Regions from separate parts of the Homo sapiens genome. Here region 1 is linked to region 2. Evidence: fine-mapped expression QTL. A gene starts in region 2. The other region holds a variant in brackets. All regions are shown on one strand. Distances are from middle to middle. Region 1 overlaps SYTL3 (synaptotagmin like 3). Region 2 holds the start of SYTL3 (synaptotagmin like 3).

Region 1 (8,333 bases), 66 kb before region 2:
CTTCAGCCTCCCAGAGTGCTGGGATTACAGGCATGAGCCATGGTGCCCGGCCAATTTTTAAAATTTTTAATTTATTATTATTTGAGACAGGGTTTCACTCTGTCACCCAGGCTGGAGTGCAGTGGTGCAACCATGGCTCACTGCAGCCTTGACCTCCTGGGCTCAAGCGATCCTCCCACCTCAGTCTCCCTAGTAGCTGGGATTATAGACATGTGACACCACACCCGGCTAATATTTGTATTTTTGTAGAGACAGGGTTTTCTCATGTTGCCCAGGCTGGTCTCCAACTCCTTGGCTCAAGCAATCTGCCCACCTCGGCTTCCCAAAGTGCTGGGATTACCGGCATGAGCCACCAGGCTCGGCCGATCTTTATCATGGGAGTAACAATGTCTACCACGGTATTTTTGTGAGAATTAAATGTGATGAAGTAGGTAAGAAGCAATGCTGCCACCACGTGTGGCACACAGGGCTTCATATGGTTGCTAACCCTCCCCTCCACCTGTTTCACTAGAAGGAGTGATCCCCGGAGGGAGTTCGGAGGGAGCTTCTGTAGACCCCGGGAAGCTGACAGGAGCTGACACTTGTGTTATAGAATTTCAAACACCTGCCAAATACATTTCAAACTGTCTAGACACCTCGCTCCTGAAGTGTGGTCTGAGAACTTCACAGCATAGACTTCGCCAGATCCCAGGAGTTCACCAAAAATGCATCTGCGGTTCCTCATCTCACGTCCACCCCGCAGCTACTGATTTGGAATCTGCATTTTAAGAGCCCCAGTGACCCCCTATACTCATAAGAGCTGGGAATCACTGCCTCAGAGTTCAGTCCTCTTTTGGCTATACAACCTTTGGCAGGTGACTTAATCTAAACCTCCATTTCTTTACATGTAAAATGAGGCTGCATGCAATACCTACCCTAGATGGTGGTTATGAAGATAAAATGAGATAGCCTAGTTAAGCTATTAGTACAGAGTCCAGCACATCATAGTCAATGCTGGCAATTTAGATAAAATATTTAGATGACTTAGATAGCAAATCAAGATACTACATTATCTCATTAGATGTTTACAAAACCTTGTGCTGTGCGCAGAACAGGTATTATCATCTTCATTTTACAGAGGGGCGCACTGGGCTGGAGCGGGAGGCAGGACGTGAACTCTCAAGAGGCTGTGTGCAAGTTCCAGCAGGAGAGGGGGGCTGACCTCACACCCTCGCCTAAAGGACAGTCTGTCTGGGGACAGCCTGAGTGGAGTCCACAGCAGCAGAGAAGGGACACCAGTTCTGTCCAGCCTACCAGGGCAGTCACATCAACACTGCAAGCAACAGCTGGTGGCACCTGCCCAGCCAAGGCACCTCAGCTGAACTAGAATGCGGGCTTTCCCATTCTAAGGTTGGCTCTCTCTCATACCCGAAGCGTTCACTCCAGGCTGGGTTAGTCCTGGTGGGAAGGTGGAATAATTATTTCCCTAGAAGCCTTTACTAAGGGAGCTCTCACTTGTGGTGTGGACAGCGGGGGAAGAGCGCCCCCACAGGCTTGCTCGCGCCTTTACGTTTTCAATAGTTTCCATCAGAGGTCAGGATAGATTTTAACCAAAGGCTGCTGGTCTTGCAGACTCCAGGGCTAACCCGGCAGGTGTGGGCCCTGCAGGAAGCCCTTGGGCTTTGGCGCAGGCTTGAAGCCAGCAGGGAGCTCTGTGGACACAGAGGAGCCTCAGGGGCTTGTGATTAGGTGGAAGCCTTTCCTTGTGCTGAACAGTTTTCCAGACTGACCTTCAATCCTGACCTGCCTTGGGCCAGCCCTGCCCAAATAGAGGCACTGACTGGTAATTATGTTTTTCTGATGGCTTACTGTTTTTCTATAAAACCAAAGAAAACATAAATCTACAGAGAAGGCAGGCTAGAAAGTTCTGGAAGACAACATGAAGGTGATCAGCGTGGAGGCCTTGTGGGGCTCAGGGTACCCTGGTGGTGACGTTGACCGCAGTGTCAGACTGGCTCCGTCTCTCTGTCTGTCCCACACACTGCCTGGGGCCCGTGGCGAGAAGATGCTTCTCAGAAGTCATATCATTCTGGGATTTGGAGAGCTCTAAAAGGCAAACACAAGGGTTGATGGGTGGGAACAAGCAGCTTTGCTGAGACTTGTGGGAGCCTCTTCTGGGGTTCACTGAACCCACAGACAGTGGGTCCCAAGGTCTTAAGAGGGCAAAGTGCACGGAGGAGCAAGGGCGGCACATTCCCCCACCAAGTGCAGAGGTGTTGGGAAGGTGAGCAGACAGTGTGCTGGGTCAGGGCAGGAGAGGGCTGGCTTCCTTCAAGGTCCCGCTGTGGCCACCCAGGCCATGGTCAGGGTGAGAGGTGAAGGGAAATCATCCACCCAAGCTCCTCTGCGTTCCAGGTCACACATATGTGTGTGCACTCATCCAAACACGAAGACGGCAGCCTACCAAACAAGCCGGCTTTCTAGGGGTTCCTTACAAAGATGTTACAACTTAACACCATTTCTTGTGACTTTTTGAAGCGAGGTAAAAATAAGATTTGGGGTGTCCTCATAACAATTATAATAAACAAACCCTGGAAAGATGACTGTAAACAAATTTGTTTCATTTTTACAGTGTAATAGTGGTCTAGAGTAAAGATGAAGAAAGTTTGAAGGAAGGAAGCCACATACAGAAGTGAGAGAACCACCTTGAAGATAGTTTCATCCTCTGAAGATGGTTTCATTTTCCCTTGAGAACCCCACTCCTCCAAACGGGGACCTTAAAACTGTCTCTAGAGCTGTGCTGTCCGGCAGAGAGACAATGCAAGTCACACATACAATTTTAAATTTTATAGTAGCCATATTTAAAAAGTTAAAAAAAAAAAAACAGGTAAAATTAACTCTATTTACTTATTTATTTTTGAAATAGAGTCTCACTCTGTTGCCCAGAATGGAGTGCAATGATGTGATCTTGGCTCACTGCAACCTCCGCCTCCTGGGTTCAAGTGATTCTCATGCCTCAGCCTCCCAAGTAGCTGGGATTACAGGTGTGTGTCACCACGCCCGGCTAATTTTTGTATTAGCCATGGTTTCACCATGTTGGCCAGGCTGGTCTCGAACTCCTGAGCTCAAGAGATCCACCCACCTTGGCCTCCCAAAGTGCTGGGATTACAGGCTTAAGCCACCATGCCTGGCCAAATTAATTTTAATTCTATATTTAGTTTAACACAATATATCCAAAATATTAAAAAATGTCATCAACATTAAAGTTATCCATGAAATATTTTACTTTTGTTGGATTCCAAGTCTCTGAAACCCAGTGTGTTCACTTTGGTAGTGCATCTTGCAGCCCTATTTCAGGGGCTCAAGAGCAACACGTGGTTAGAGGCCACTGCAATGGACACTGTGGCTCTTGACCCCC[C/T]GGCTGGCTTTGGATCCACCTCCTTGGGATGTTATTGCATGAATCCTCTATCCTCTCACTATGTATTCGTTCTCTCCTGCCTACACTGCCCAAGAATGAGTCTTGCAGTATCTCTTTCATCTAAAGAGGGAACGGCTGGGGTGTCCAGCTTTTCCACCAGGATGCCTCCTAGCCTCCTCTGATAGCAATGCCATCCCCATGTCCTCAAGGTGACCATCAAGAAACACTGGGGGATCTTTCTAAGGCCAGCAGCTCGTAAGGCACTAGTACGCACCAGGTCCTCAAAGTGGACAAAGTAAAGGACACGCTCAGATGGTCCATCTCAGTCTGGACTGTGAGGCTGTGAGGGGCTCTAATTTCTAAGCCCTTAGGAGGAACTGGTCCCCCAGCAATCTCTTAGTGCCCATCCCAAAGCCTGGGCCTATTTGGGCCATTGAAAGTTCACAGATGAGGGGAGAGGACAAGCCTTCTTGAGAAATTTGGGCTCTAAGAAATAGGCTTATAGGTCAGTATTATTAGGGGACAAAGGATAAGGAAGAGAAAGAAATGCAGATTGCTTCTGGGCAAGACCAGTTTTCTCATTTCCTCTTCCCCTTTCTAAGGGGGACTACAGTGCTGACATCTTCTAGAAACGTACTGATAATAGACAGAGCTGCAGCCACTCATTTCCTCCCGCTGGTTTGACTTCATTGGGCAGCATCAGCAGCTAGAGGTTGTAATTCTGGGTCACCTTTCAAAACCCCTCAGGGGCAAAGCCACCCTTCAGCACCTGGGCCAGTGAAGAGTCTGGGGCCCTCTACAGTCCCTCCCCGAGGACCTCAGGTGCCAATCTTCCTCCCCTCAGAATGAGGCTTCCCTCTGCACCCACTTCCGTGGGGAAACAGGCAGCCAATAAGATAATAGGAGCACGAGAAGAGGAGCTCAAAATCCAAAGAAATAGGAGTCAGCGCCTACAGGACGCTAAGTGTCCTGTGGCAGAGACGGGAGAAGGGCGTGTGTGTGGTCACGTGTCCTGTTCCTGCAGAAACAGGGGAAGCACTCGGGAAAGGTCAGAGGCCAAGCACCACTCCCAGCAGCCAGAAAGCTGGGGTTTTCTATCTCTGCCTCTGGGCAGGGGGTGGGGGTGGTGGGGGGGTATGGGGGGTGCTGGGTGCGTGCGTGTGTGTGTGTGTGTGATGCGGTTTCAGTCTGCTTTCCATATCTGAGAAGGGATGCTTGCTGTTTTGCTCTTGTGAATTCCCCCACACCTCGCCCAGGGACTAGCTCTAGTTGTCCACCTGGGTATTACACTGGTTAGCCTCAAGTGCTCAAGTGTGTGAGCAGGTACACAGGCCAGGCTCTGGGGTGGCCACCTGACAGCTGTGAGCATATCCAATGAACCTGTGTGCAGGGCTGGGAGCATCCAGGAAGGTGCATGTGTGCTGACGTGTGTGTCCCACCTCTCTGGATTTCGGTGGCTGGGGGATGACAGGGTTGGGGCTAACTCCAAGGCACTGATTCTATAGTGGCAGTGGTGGAAGACAATTCACAGAAGCCACATAGATTTGGAGAAGGGCTGTGCACCTAGAAAGACATACAGGGAAGGTGAACTAGCACCCACCCATACATGACAAATACAAGGGGGTGGGTGGGAAAATAGCACCCACAAGAGAACAAGAGAAGAGGCAGCCGGGACAGCTGGAAAACACGTTCCAGGCCAAGGGGCACAGAGCAGGGGTTACTGTCAGAGAGCCCAGCAGGATGGAAACAGTGATTTTTAAGCCACCAAACGCTCTTAGCAAACAGGCCCATGAAATTCAGCTGCTTCCTCCCTAAGAAAGGAACAGACCATTGCATGAGACGACTGTTTCTGCTCATCTGAAGAGCAGTGCTTTGATGTCCATTGTCATCGTGTGACAGCTGACACAGGGCTCATGAGGAATACGGACAACTAATTAAAGTCACATAAAGAGACTGTCTCAGAGCCAAGTGCAGCACTGAGACCATCCGCATGCAACTACAGAAAAGGGGATGATGAAGAGAAGCCGAGCAGAAACACAGTGAAAGAGAAATCCATGCCTAAGGACCCTTGAGCACACTAAGGACATTTTCTAAACACCTGACCAGCCCTGGGCATCTTAGGAGGCATGAAAAGGAGTCTGTCCTCTGGGACTTGAATTTTAAGATAAACAGAGAAAAAAGTATCTGAGCAGAAAGAACATTGAAAGACACAAGATTGCAAGTGGAGGTGGTTCTAGGTTACATGCATCTGCAAATCACAGGATTACTGCTAACTGAAGAAAATACATTTACCAAGGAGGAGAGGAGAAAGGCAAGTAATTCCATGCAGACAATAGATAGATAATTGGGCCCTACTGGCCTGAAAGGTTCTGGTTTTAGATTCCCTGAAATTGCATCTTTTTTTTTTTTTCTTTTTCTTTTTTGAGACGGAGTCTTGCTCTGTTGCTCAGGCTGGAGTCCAGTGGCGTGATCTTGGCTCACTGCAACCTCCGCCTCCTGGGTTCAAGTGATTCTCCTGCCTCAGCTTCCCCAGTAGCTGGGATTACAGGCACCCACCACCATGCCTGGCTAATTTTTGTATTTTTAGTGGAGACAGGGTTTCACCATGTTGGCCAGATGGTCTCGAACTCCTGACCTCAAGTGATCCACCCACCTTGGCCTCCCAAAGTGCTTGGATTACAGGTCTGAGCCACCATTTCTCTTCCTATGAGGAACCAGAGGCCTGCTTTGTTGGGAAAGAGATGAAGGGCCAGGTGCTGTGGCTTTCCCCAGGGTCCAGAGACAAAGTGAGTGGCCTGAGGGACAGTGTCAACCGAGGTCACCGGCCAGGCCCTGGCCAGTGGGCTCGGCTGGCCTGGAAGGTAGTGGGAAAACACATCATGAAGCATGCACTTACTTTTCACGTGGGTAGCAAGAGACAGAAACAAATTTTCCACGGACTTATTAAATCCTCTAAACTGACCAAATTCCTGTAACTAAAACAGAGACAGAAGGAGAGAATGAGAATTATGCTTGATGACTTGTGTTTGCCTCAGCAGTGTCCAGGCTGCCAACCCCAAAACACTGGCATGTGGGTGTGTGCGAGTGAGTGTGGGCGTGGTGCTGGGGGTGCAGGTGGGCATGGGTGTGTGCATGCAGGCCTGGAGGCGGACAGCAGTCTTCCTGAGGGGTAGGCATCTTCTTCATTCAGCGTCTCTCCCTACTTTTGCTATTCACATTGAAGGAGCATTATCAGCGGGTTGTTGACAAGATGACAAGTACCCCTGGGAAATGATGACTGGCATTTCATTGGCTCAAAGACTGTACTCAAGTAAATTACTGCTTGTTTAACCTCTTTTCTCCAATGGCCCCACCCCAACTCCATGCAGAAGTGGCAGGATGTGGGTGGCACAGGGGATGAGGATGGTAAAAGCCACAAGGTGACCAGGCAAGAGCTGAGGGGCTCCACTTCCCAAAGCAGAAGAAAAAAAAGATAAAACAACAGAAAGGAGTTCACTTCCTTATCCAAGTCTCATTCATTCATCCATCCATCCACCCATCTAGCCACCAAACATCCATCCATCTTACATTACCACCCATCCAATCATCCATCTGTCCAATAAATACATCATGAGCACGTAGGTACTGGAACGACTCTGGAGAATTTGAAATTTCCAGGAGAAAGTAGAGCAGGATTTTGAAGGTCACCCCAGTCTCAGTTTGAAACTGAAAAAGAGGCCAGGCGCGGTGGCTCACGCCTGTAATCCCAGCACTTTGGGAGCCCGAGGCGGGCGGATCACGAGGTCAGGAGATCGAGACCATCCTGGCTAACACGTGAAACCCCGTCTCTACTAAAAATACAAAAAAAAATTAGCTGGGCAAGGTGGCGGGCACCTGTAATCCCAGCTACTTGGGAGGCTGAGGCAGGAGAATGGTGTGAACCCGGGAGGCGGAGCTTGCAATGAGTCGAGATCACGCCACTGGTCTCCAGCCTGGGCAATAGAGCGAGACTCTGTCTCAAAAAAAAAAAAAAAAAGAAAGAAAGAAAAGAAAAAGAATGTATGTGATTCTTCTCTCTTATCAGCATTATATATTTTTGGGTTTGGATCATAATCTCAAAGACACAGTCTCAAATGCCATAATCCTAAACGATGAAAGATCAAAATCCCTAAAGTCTAAATCCCTAAAGATTAAAATCCCTGAAGTCCAAATCCCTAACATCTAAAATCCCCAAAATCACAATTATGGGATAGTTGCATCATGTTAGGGGGACCTATTACTTTGTTACTGCCTTTATTAAATTAAGTATGACTTAAGGAGAGCCTATGGGTACAGGTTGACAAGGGGTGGACTCGTGGACTTAATTAATGACACCTTAATTGTAGGCATCCACTTGATTGGCTTCAGGAATACCTAGAAGCCTGGTAAGGCATTATTCTGGGTGTGTCTGTGAGGGTGTTTCCAGAGGAGATTAGTGTGTGAGTCTGAGTGGATTCGGTTAGAAAGATCTGCCCTCAATATTGGCAGGCACCACCCACTCAACCAGGGGCCCAAGGAGAACAAATACAGCAAATGAATTGGTCTCTGAGAGCTGGAACAGACTTTTCTTCTGCTGCCTTGGACATCAGAACCCAGGCTGATTGGCCATTGGACTCCAGGACTTAGACCAGAGGCTCCCTGGGTCCTGAGGCTTTCAGCTTTGAACTGAGAGTTACATTGTCAGAGGTATGTGAACCACAGCAACTCCATCTTGAATAGGAGCTGGGTAAAATGAGGCCGAGACCTACTGGGCTGCATTCCCAGATGGTTAAGGCATTCTAAGTCACAGGATGAGATGGGAGGTCAGCCCAATATACAGGTCATAAAGACCTTGCTGATAAAACAGGTTGCAGTAAAGAAGACAGCTAAAATCCACCAAAACCAAGATGGCAACAAGAGTGACCTCTGGTCGTCCTCA
Region 2 (8,333 bases):
TCCTGTATTGTTTACCACAGCTATTTCCTTGAGAAGTTTCACAGCTTCAGCGTGCAGCCACCATGCTTTCTGCCTCGTACACAGGGGAAAAGTTGAGTGACTGCATTGTCCTTGAAATTTTACCTGAAAACCTCATGACTTTTTTGCTTGCATAGATTCTTTTTTTTTTTCTCTGAGACGGAGTTCGCTCTTGTTGCCCAGGCGGGAATGCAATGGCGCGATCTTGGCTCACCACAACCTCCGCCTCCCAGGTTCATGAAATTCTCCTGCCTCAACCTCCCGAGTAGCTGACATTACAGGCATGCACCACCATCCTCCGCTAATTTTGTATTTTTAGTAGAGACAGGGTTTCTTCATGTTGGTCAGGCTGGTCTCAAACTCCCAACCTCAGGTGATCTGCCCACCGTGGCCTCCCAAAGTGCTGGGATTACAGGTGTGAGCCACTGCGACCGGCCTGCTTGCATAGATTCTTTACGGAAGCTGATTACAGCCACAAAGGAAGGTGATGAATAAAGAACAGCTCTCAGCTCAGTTCCCTATTCATAGGCTTAAAAGACTCATTTTTGCAACAATGAGACAGCACGCATGCATATCCATCAGAAAGTCTGACACAGAAATGAAGATGTGCGTTTATACATTTTCTGTCTATCTTGTTACTCATTCAGAGGTGGGTTTTCTGGGAAGCGAATGACACCTCAACTTCAGAATCCTTTATTTGCACGGCCCTGTCCAAGGCCCTAGATGCCCTGTACCTGGTTCCCTCTTTGTTTTCCCAAAGTCTCCACAAGTTGTACAAGTTTCAGGTCCCTCAGATATCTCTACTTCACATTAGAAGACTCGGCTGGGTGCGGTGGCTCACGCCTGTAATCCCAGCACTTTGGGAAGCTGAGGTGGGTGGATCACGAGGTCAGGAGTTTTGAGACCAGCCTGGCCAACATGGTGAAACCCTGTCTTTACTAAAAATACAAAAATTAGCCGGGCATGGTGGTGGGCACCTGTAATCCCAGCTACTCGGGAAGCTGAGACAGAATTGTTTGAACCTGGGAGGTGGAGGTTGCAGTGAGCTGAGATCGCGCCATTGCACTCCAGCCTGGGTGACAGAGCGAGACTCTGTCTCAAAAAAATAAATAAGGCCGGGCGTGGTGGCTCACGCTTGTAATCCCAGCACTTTGGGAGGACGAGGCAGGTGGATCATGAAGTCAGGAGATGGAGACCATCCTGGCCAACATGTTAAAACCCTGTCTCCACTAAAAATACAAAAAAATTAGCCAGGTGTGGCGGCAGGTGCCTATAGTCCCAGCTACTTCGGAGGCTGAGGCAGGAGAATGGTGTTAACCCGGGAGGCAGAGCTTGCAGTGAGCTGAAATTGCAGCCACTGCACTCTAGCCTGGGCAACAGAGTGAGACTCTGTCTCAAAAAATAATAATAATAAAATAAGTAAATAAATAAACAGGCTGGGCTCGGTGGCTCACACCTGTAATCCCAACACTTTGGGAGGCCGAGGTGGGTGGATCACCTGAGGTCAGGAGTTTGAGACCAGCCTAGCCAACCTGGTGAAACCTCATCTATACTAAAAATACAAAAATTATCTGGGCATGGTGGCAGGCACCTGTAATCCTAGCTACCGGGGAGGCTGAGGCAGGAGAATCACTTGAACCTGGGAGGCAGGGGTTGCAGTGAACCGAGATCGTGCCATTGCACTCCAGCCTGGGCAACAGAGTGAGACTCCATCTCAAATAAATAAAAAAAAATAAAAATACATAAAAATAAATAAATAAATAAATAAAACATTAGAAGACTCACACGTGGGCTTGAATCTATAAAACTTGAAGCCTACCTGAGAGAGGACAAAGTTGAACAGGCGCTTTCTCTGAAAGATCACTGCAATTCACCGCTGATTCCGAGTATTCTTTCTCATTCGGGGAGCCTTTTACCACCCAAAAACAACAAAAAATATTACTTTAGAATCAGAAATAGGAATTCATGACTGAAATAGGAAGCCATGGCATTCATACTTTAAACTTGACCTCTTTGTATGGAAGAGCAAAGAAATGAGAATTAATATTATTATTTATTTATTTATTTATTTATTTGAGATGGAGTCTCGCTCTGTCACCAGGCTGGAGTGCAGTGGCGCGATCTCAGCTCACTGCAACCTCCACCTCCCGGGTTCAAGCAATTCCCCTGCCTCAGCCTCCTGAGTAGCTGGGACTACAGGCGCCCGCCACCACACCCAGCTAATTTTTTTGTATTTTTTAGTAGAGTTTCACCATGTTGGCCAGGATGATCTCGATCTCTTGACCTCATGATCCATCCGCCTAGGCCTCCCAAAGTGCTGAGATGACAGGCGTGAGCCATCACACCCGGCCGAGAATTAATATTATTATATCCTTCTAGGTACTACTCACAATTGTTGTTATGCTTTCTGTTGTGCCAACAGCTACTATTTATTTAGCTCTTACTCTGAACCAGATAGTTTAAGTACTTTGCATACATTATCTCTACTAATCCTTATTGCCACATTATGAAGTAAATGTACCCATTCTACAGATGAGGAGAGTGAGTCTTGGAGTGATTAAGTAACTTACCTAAACTCACACTCTAAACTGGGTCTGTTTAACTCCAAAACCTTATGCTTCATTTAGGCAAAGCAGCTAAGTTAGAATCTCCAACTATCTTGGCTAAATAATCTTTTCTACACCAATTCTAATTTCTTTTTTTCTTTTTTTGAGACGGAGTCTTACTCTGTTGCCCAGGCTGGATTGCAGTGGCAGGATCTTGGCTCACTGCCACCTCCGCCTCCCAGGTTCAAGTGATTCTCGTGCCTCAGCCTCCTGGGCAGCTGGGATTACAGGTGCCTGCCACCACACCCAGCTAATTTTTGTATTTTTTTTTTTTTTTTAGAGATGGGGTTTCATCATGTTGGCCAGGCTGGTCTCAAATTCCTGATCTCAAGGGATCTACCCACCTTGGCCTCCCAAAGTACTGGGATTACAGGCGTGAGCCACCGCACCCAGCCCAATTCTAATTTAATAAATCTTTAATATCTAATGTGCACTTTCCTCTCATAGTCTCTTTCTTACCAAGCAATTTAGAGATTAAGGAAGCTTAATTAAAAGAAATTTAAATTAGACCCTAGCTAACTTTTTTATAATTCCAAAATGATATTTATGTTCCACCTCCAAACGAGAAATTACGGATGATCAAAACAATAAAGTCGATTCAGAGAGAGCAAAATAGTAATAAACTGTAAGTATAAGAATTTGCAAACCAAAGAAGAAAGCAAATGACACTCTACCCTTTAAAAAAAAAAATCACACCATATAGCTTTTGGATAGTGTTTTTCTGTTTTGTTTTGGTTTTTAATTAACTCTGAAGTCACTTCCACCATATCACTTAAATCATTATTATCTCAAATGTTAAATGTATGTTATTCAATAAAATTACAAGATATCTTTTATCTAATTTATTATGTTTTGTTTCCTACCTTTTCAATGTCATAAATTTAAGAAAAGTTACAATAACTATAATCTCTACCCACCCCACTCCCCCACTCCTAAAACGACCTGCTGCAACGGCCAGCCATGCCTTCTCATCCTACCTTCGCATCTGCTTCAAGAGAAGAGACCAGAGCCGGCTCTGCAGAGAAGGAAGTCAATTCTTCTTGTTAGAGTAACTGACGTATTTCTCTTCCCTTCCTGTCGGGCACAGGCTGACGCAGTGCACCCTGTGTGGCCAGCCTTACATGCCTCGGTGGCTACTCCCACATCACTAGGGACCCAGGGAGCAAAGCCACCCCAAAACCACATCAAGGAGCTCTTCTATGCCAACATTTTACATTTTTAGCTGGAGGAAAGACCAGGCTGATGCTGGTGAAATGTTTCACCCTTCCTAAGGAAACTCCCTACAGAGACTACAGCCTTCAAATATTCAAATGTTCTCACATTTGTGAAGGGTTTCACATTGACTTCAGTGTAAATGACTAACCACATCTCAAAGAACAGCTATTAACTCAAGAATAATTTACAAGAAAGGGGGACAGCCAGGCCAAGAGCGATGAAGATTGTAATGAAATCACCAAGGGGAACCTTCAAAATGCTGTGCGTGTACTAGGTAGTATTACTCAGCACCGTGAAGTGTCCCTGCCCTGCTAACTCAGGCATGGCCAAGGACTTGCTCTGGAGAGCAATAAGACAATGAAGTGTGTGCAAAGGTGCCACGTGCCACGTAGGCTTGGCACCTACCGAGCCAGTACTGGGGCCACCATTCATTCTCTTTCCCTTCTCTTTCCCTTGATGACTCCAGACACAGGCTGCTCCAGCAACCTCGTCTCAGCATGGAGAAGACATGAAGCAGAGCCATGGAAGATCCTTGATGGTCATGGAGTGTGAGTGGCAAATAAATGTTTGCTGTCATCAACCACTGAGAGTGTAGGGCCATTTGTTTCTGCAGCTAACCTAGCCTATTCTGCTGATGTAGTGTGTAGTGTTTTCACAAACACAGAACTGAGCACCAAACTATTTAATAACTACTATAGCATGAATATTTACCCATTGGAACAAATGCCAGCGGAGGCCCTGCTATACCACGAGTTATCCTTTAGTTATTGGATCTTGGGGATGAGGTCCCAGGGAAGGGGCTGCAGTCACCAGGATTGAGAGGAAGAGGGACCCAAGAAGCTCAGAGCAGCCACTGTTTCATGGGGTACAGAGGTATTTCAGCACAACTGTGCCTCCGCTTCCCAGCTCAATAGCAGATCTAAATATAGGCACTTCTTAGCTAATCTCTTTAGCTTTTCTCAGCACAGGACTCTCACTTTAGATATGTGTCAGCCAGAGTTTCTTTTCCTTTACAACATTAAATTCCTCAGCCATGAGTGTTTCAACAGCACCCTCGTCCTCATCGTCTTCTTCTGTTACTATTATTTTGACTCAGCATGATCTCATAGTAACACACTTCTTGGCACAGGGGAAGAAAGGAAAAAATGGAAAATCCACAGGATGGCATTTGGACTATGAAGGGCTGCAGATTATAGCAGAACAACACTGCTGGATATTATTATTATTATTATTTTTTTTTTTTTTTTTTTGAGACCGAGTCTCGCTCTTTCACCCAGTCGGGACTGCAGTGGCGCGATCTCGGCTCACTGCAAGCTCCGCCTCCCGGGTTCACGCTATTCTCCTGCCTCAGCCTCCCGAGTAGCTGGGACTACAGGCGCCCACCACCGCACCCAGCTAATTTTTTGTATTTTTAGTAGATACAGGGTTTCACCGTGTTAGCCAGGATGGTCTCGATCTCCTGACCTCGTGATCCGCCCGCCTCGGCCTCCCAAAGTGCTGGGATTACAGGCGTGAGCCACCACGCCTGGCCTATTATTTTATTTTTTGAGACGGAGTTTCGCTCTTGTTACCCGGGCTGGAGTGCAATGGCGCTATCTCAGCTCACCGCAATCTCTGCCTCCTGGGTTCAAGCGATTCTCCTGCCTCAGCCTCCCAAGTAGCTGGGATTACAAGCATGCACCACCATGCCTGGCTAATTTTGTATTTTTAGTAGAGATAGGGTTTCTCCATGTTGGTCAGGCTAGTCTCGAACTCCCGACCTCTGGTGATCTGCCCACCTCAGCCTCCCAAAGTACTGGGATTACAGGTGTGAGCCACTGCGCCCAGCCACTGCTGGATATTATTGATGTTATTTATTGATGTGACAGTTCATTGATTGCTATGATTATTAGGCCCACACTTGCTAAATAAAGGTATTGGCAGCTCCAGTCCCACAGTCTGTATTCAAGAAATTTGACTCCAGAAAAGAAAGGTGATTGCACGCAAACCTGCCAACCTATCACTAACCTCCAAATTGAAAAACAAACCTAAGATTCACTCCACTGACTTACTGCATAGAAACTAAACATTATTCTAAAATATGGCAGAATGCCAAAGATTCATGAGCAGTTACGAGTAAAGGTGTCTGAGCTCCAATGCTTCTGATGGACATCCATTCGTGGCAGATGGAAGGTGCTGGAAATGGCATCTGGTGAACTGCCAAATGTCTTAACGATTTTAAATTCCTTAGCCCTACAGACTACATCAGTTGGGCAGAATATAATACCACATCACTGCATTTTTCCAAGCACTACAACATCACATAAGCCTAGAGAATTCAAACCCTCCTATTTACAGATATATCCGTTTAAAAGAAAAAATTCCATAAAGGCCATGTTTTAGTCAACTTTGTAGCCTCAACCCCCAGCTCAGAGCCTGACACAAAGGGAGTGCTCCATATATGTGTATTGAACAAGTGAACAGATAGTTGTGAAGATAAACAGACCAGCTCATCCGTTTACTGGCAGCCTCAAAATGTCATACATCGCGATCATTTAACAAATGTTCTTTAATAGTTAAAATTGGAGAGTGGTACCCAATGTATAAAAGCTAAAATCATGTAAGCATTTTTAAAATGCACATTTGCATGTTTTCTGTTGATTTATGTGCATGCTGGTGATCCGCAGTTATAACAAGATCCATGCATTAATTATGCACCATCCTAGCAGACATTCAGGAAATTGATTTAAATTAGGAAGTTCCTAAAAGGTTGTGGGGAAAATTGAAAAGGCTGTCCCAAGTGTCATGTTCTTCCATTGCAGGTGTTTGCTCAGAACCGGTTTACTCTTGCTTTGCACATAATTCTGTGACACTTAGCTACTGAACTCCAGGTCCACAACAAAGTAGCAGAAGAAAAAAGATTTCAGAGGCTCCTGATTGGCTCAGGATCGTGGTGGGGCCAAGAGCTTGGAACCAGGTAGGCAGAGAACATCCAAAACGAGATCTCAGGTGATACTGAGAAGGGCAGGCAGGCAAAGCAATGTCAGCATCAGAATCACATGTGGACTGAGGCGCACGACTGAAACACCAGGACAGGGGAGTTGAAGCCAGGTAATAAGAAAGGAATTCAAAAGGTAGATAAAGTTCAGAATCCAAGGAGAGGAAGACCAGGTGTGGTAAAGCAACCAGCCTGCCCAGCAAGTCTCCTCGCTCAGGCCGAACACCCAGGGCCAAGCAGCCTTGTGTCAGTCAGGGCTCTGCCCTCCTCTCGCCAGCCCTGTTTCCCTCAAGGAGGCAGGTAGTTGCATCTTCCTCCACTCCCCAGTTCTCTCCATTTGGGTCTGAGGCAAAGCTAACACCCATGAGGGAAATGATTCATGCAATAAATTTTAGGCCGGGCATGGTGGCTCACAGCTATAATCCCAGCACTTTGGGAGGCTGAGGCTGGAGGATCCCTTAAGCCCGGGAGTTTGAGACCTGCCTGGGCAACACAGTGAGATCCCATCTCTACAAAAGACATATTAAAAAAATAGGTGGGTGTGGTGGCTAGTGCCTGGAATCCCAGCTGCTCAGGAGGCTAAGGCAGGAGAATACCTTGAGCCCAGGAGTTCAAGCTCTTAGTGGTCTTTGGATGACTAAACTTCAACACATCTTAGCTCAAAATCTCCGATCACACCACTGCATTCCAGCCCGGGCAACAGAATGACACCCTGTCTCTAAATAAATAAATAAATAAATGTTAATTGTGTAGCTATTATGTGCCAGGCACAATGTGGAAGGAAGGGGATACATTAGTGAATAAAACAGATCCTTCCTGCATGGTACTTAGTTTCTAAATGGAGACACACCATCAACAAGCAACCATAAATACGTTCTTGCAAACTGAGAGAAGTGCTATGAGGAAAATGTACAGGATGCAGGGGTGGAGGATGAGGAGGTCGGCTACCTTAGATGCCGTGGTCACAGAATGGCTCTCTGTAGGAGATTTTGAGCTAAGATATGTTAAAAGTTTAGTCATCCAAAGATCACTAAGATTAGTCTATAGTCTGACAACTTAGTAACTATTGACTTATGGCAGGGCAGAATGGGTGAGGGGAGGGAGGAGTCGTTGGGTTAGGTTCCTCTTGAAGGGCTCTAATAAGACCCTGATAGACCGACCAGGTTACAGTCCGATGGTCATAATCCAGATGAGAGATATCAATCTTTAACTGGGGTCCCGAGCATATGGGGTAGAAATAACAAGGGTTGTTGATGGATTAGATGTGGGATTTGAAGTTTAGGTCTACCAAATCCCTGGGACCCTTGCAGTCAGCTCTTTCTTGGGGAATGGGAAGTGGGTTCCAGCAACCTGAATTCAAGTGCATGACGAAACCAGAAAAAGCAAACGCCAAAATCAAAACTCGGAGCCTCAGAATACCTGCCAATAGATGCATATGCCCCAGCTTTCCGTGGAGGGCAGTTTACCAGAGCCCAGTGCAATTCCTAATTTCCATAAAGAACCCACATACAAATAAA

What was found.
Region 1: its variant is fine-mapped to the expression of SYTL3 in whole blood (INTERVAL, PIP above 0.99).

What each region holds. Positions count from the first base shown.
Region 1 is chr6:158,711,839-158,720,171 of GRCh38, reverse strand. SYTL3 (synaptotagmin like 3) reads right to left here. Exons shown (of 18, transcript NM_001242394.2): 9 at 6,294-6,372; 10 at 1,961-2,085. Among named protein-coding and RNA genes, the nearest start is that of MIR3918, 49 kb to the left of the region's middle. RefSeq lists enhancers at 1-110, 4,003-4,092. The variant C/T (reference allele first, on the strand shown) is at 3,398.
Region 2 is chr6:158,645,347-158,653,679 of GRCh38, reverse strand. It overlaps SYTL3 (synaptotagmin like 3), which reads right to left and starts at 3,626. Exons shown (of 18, transcript NM_001242394.2): 1 at 3,602-3,626; 2 at 1,838-1,927.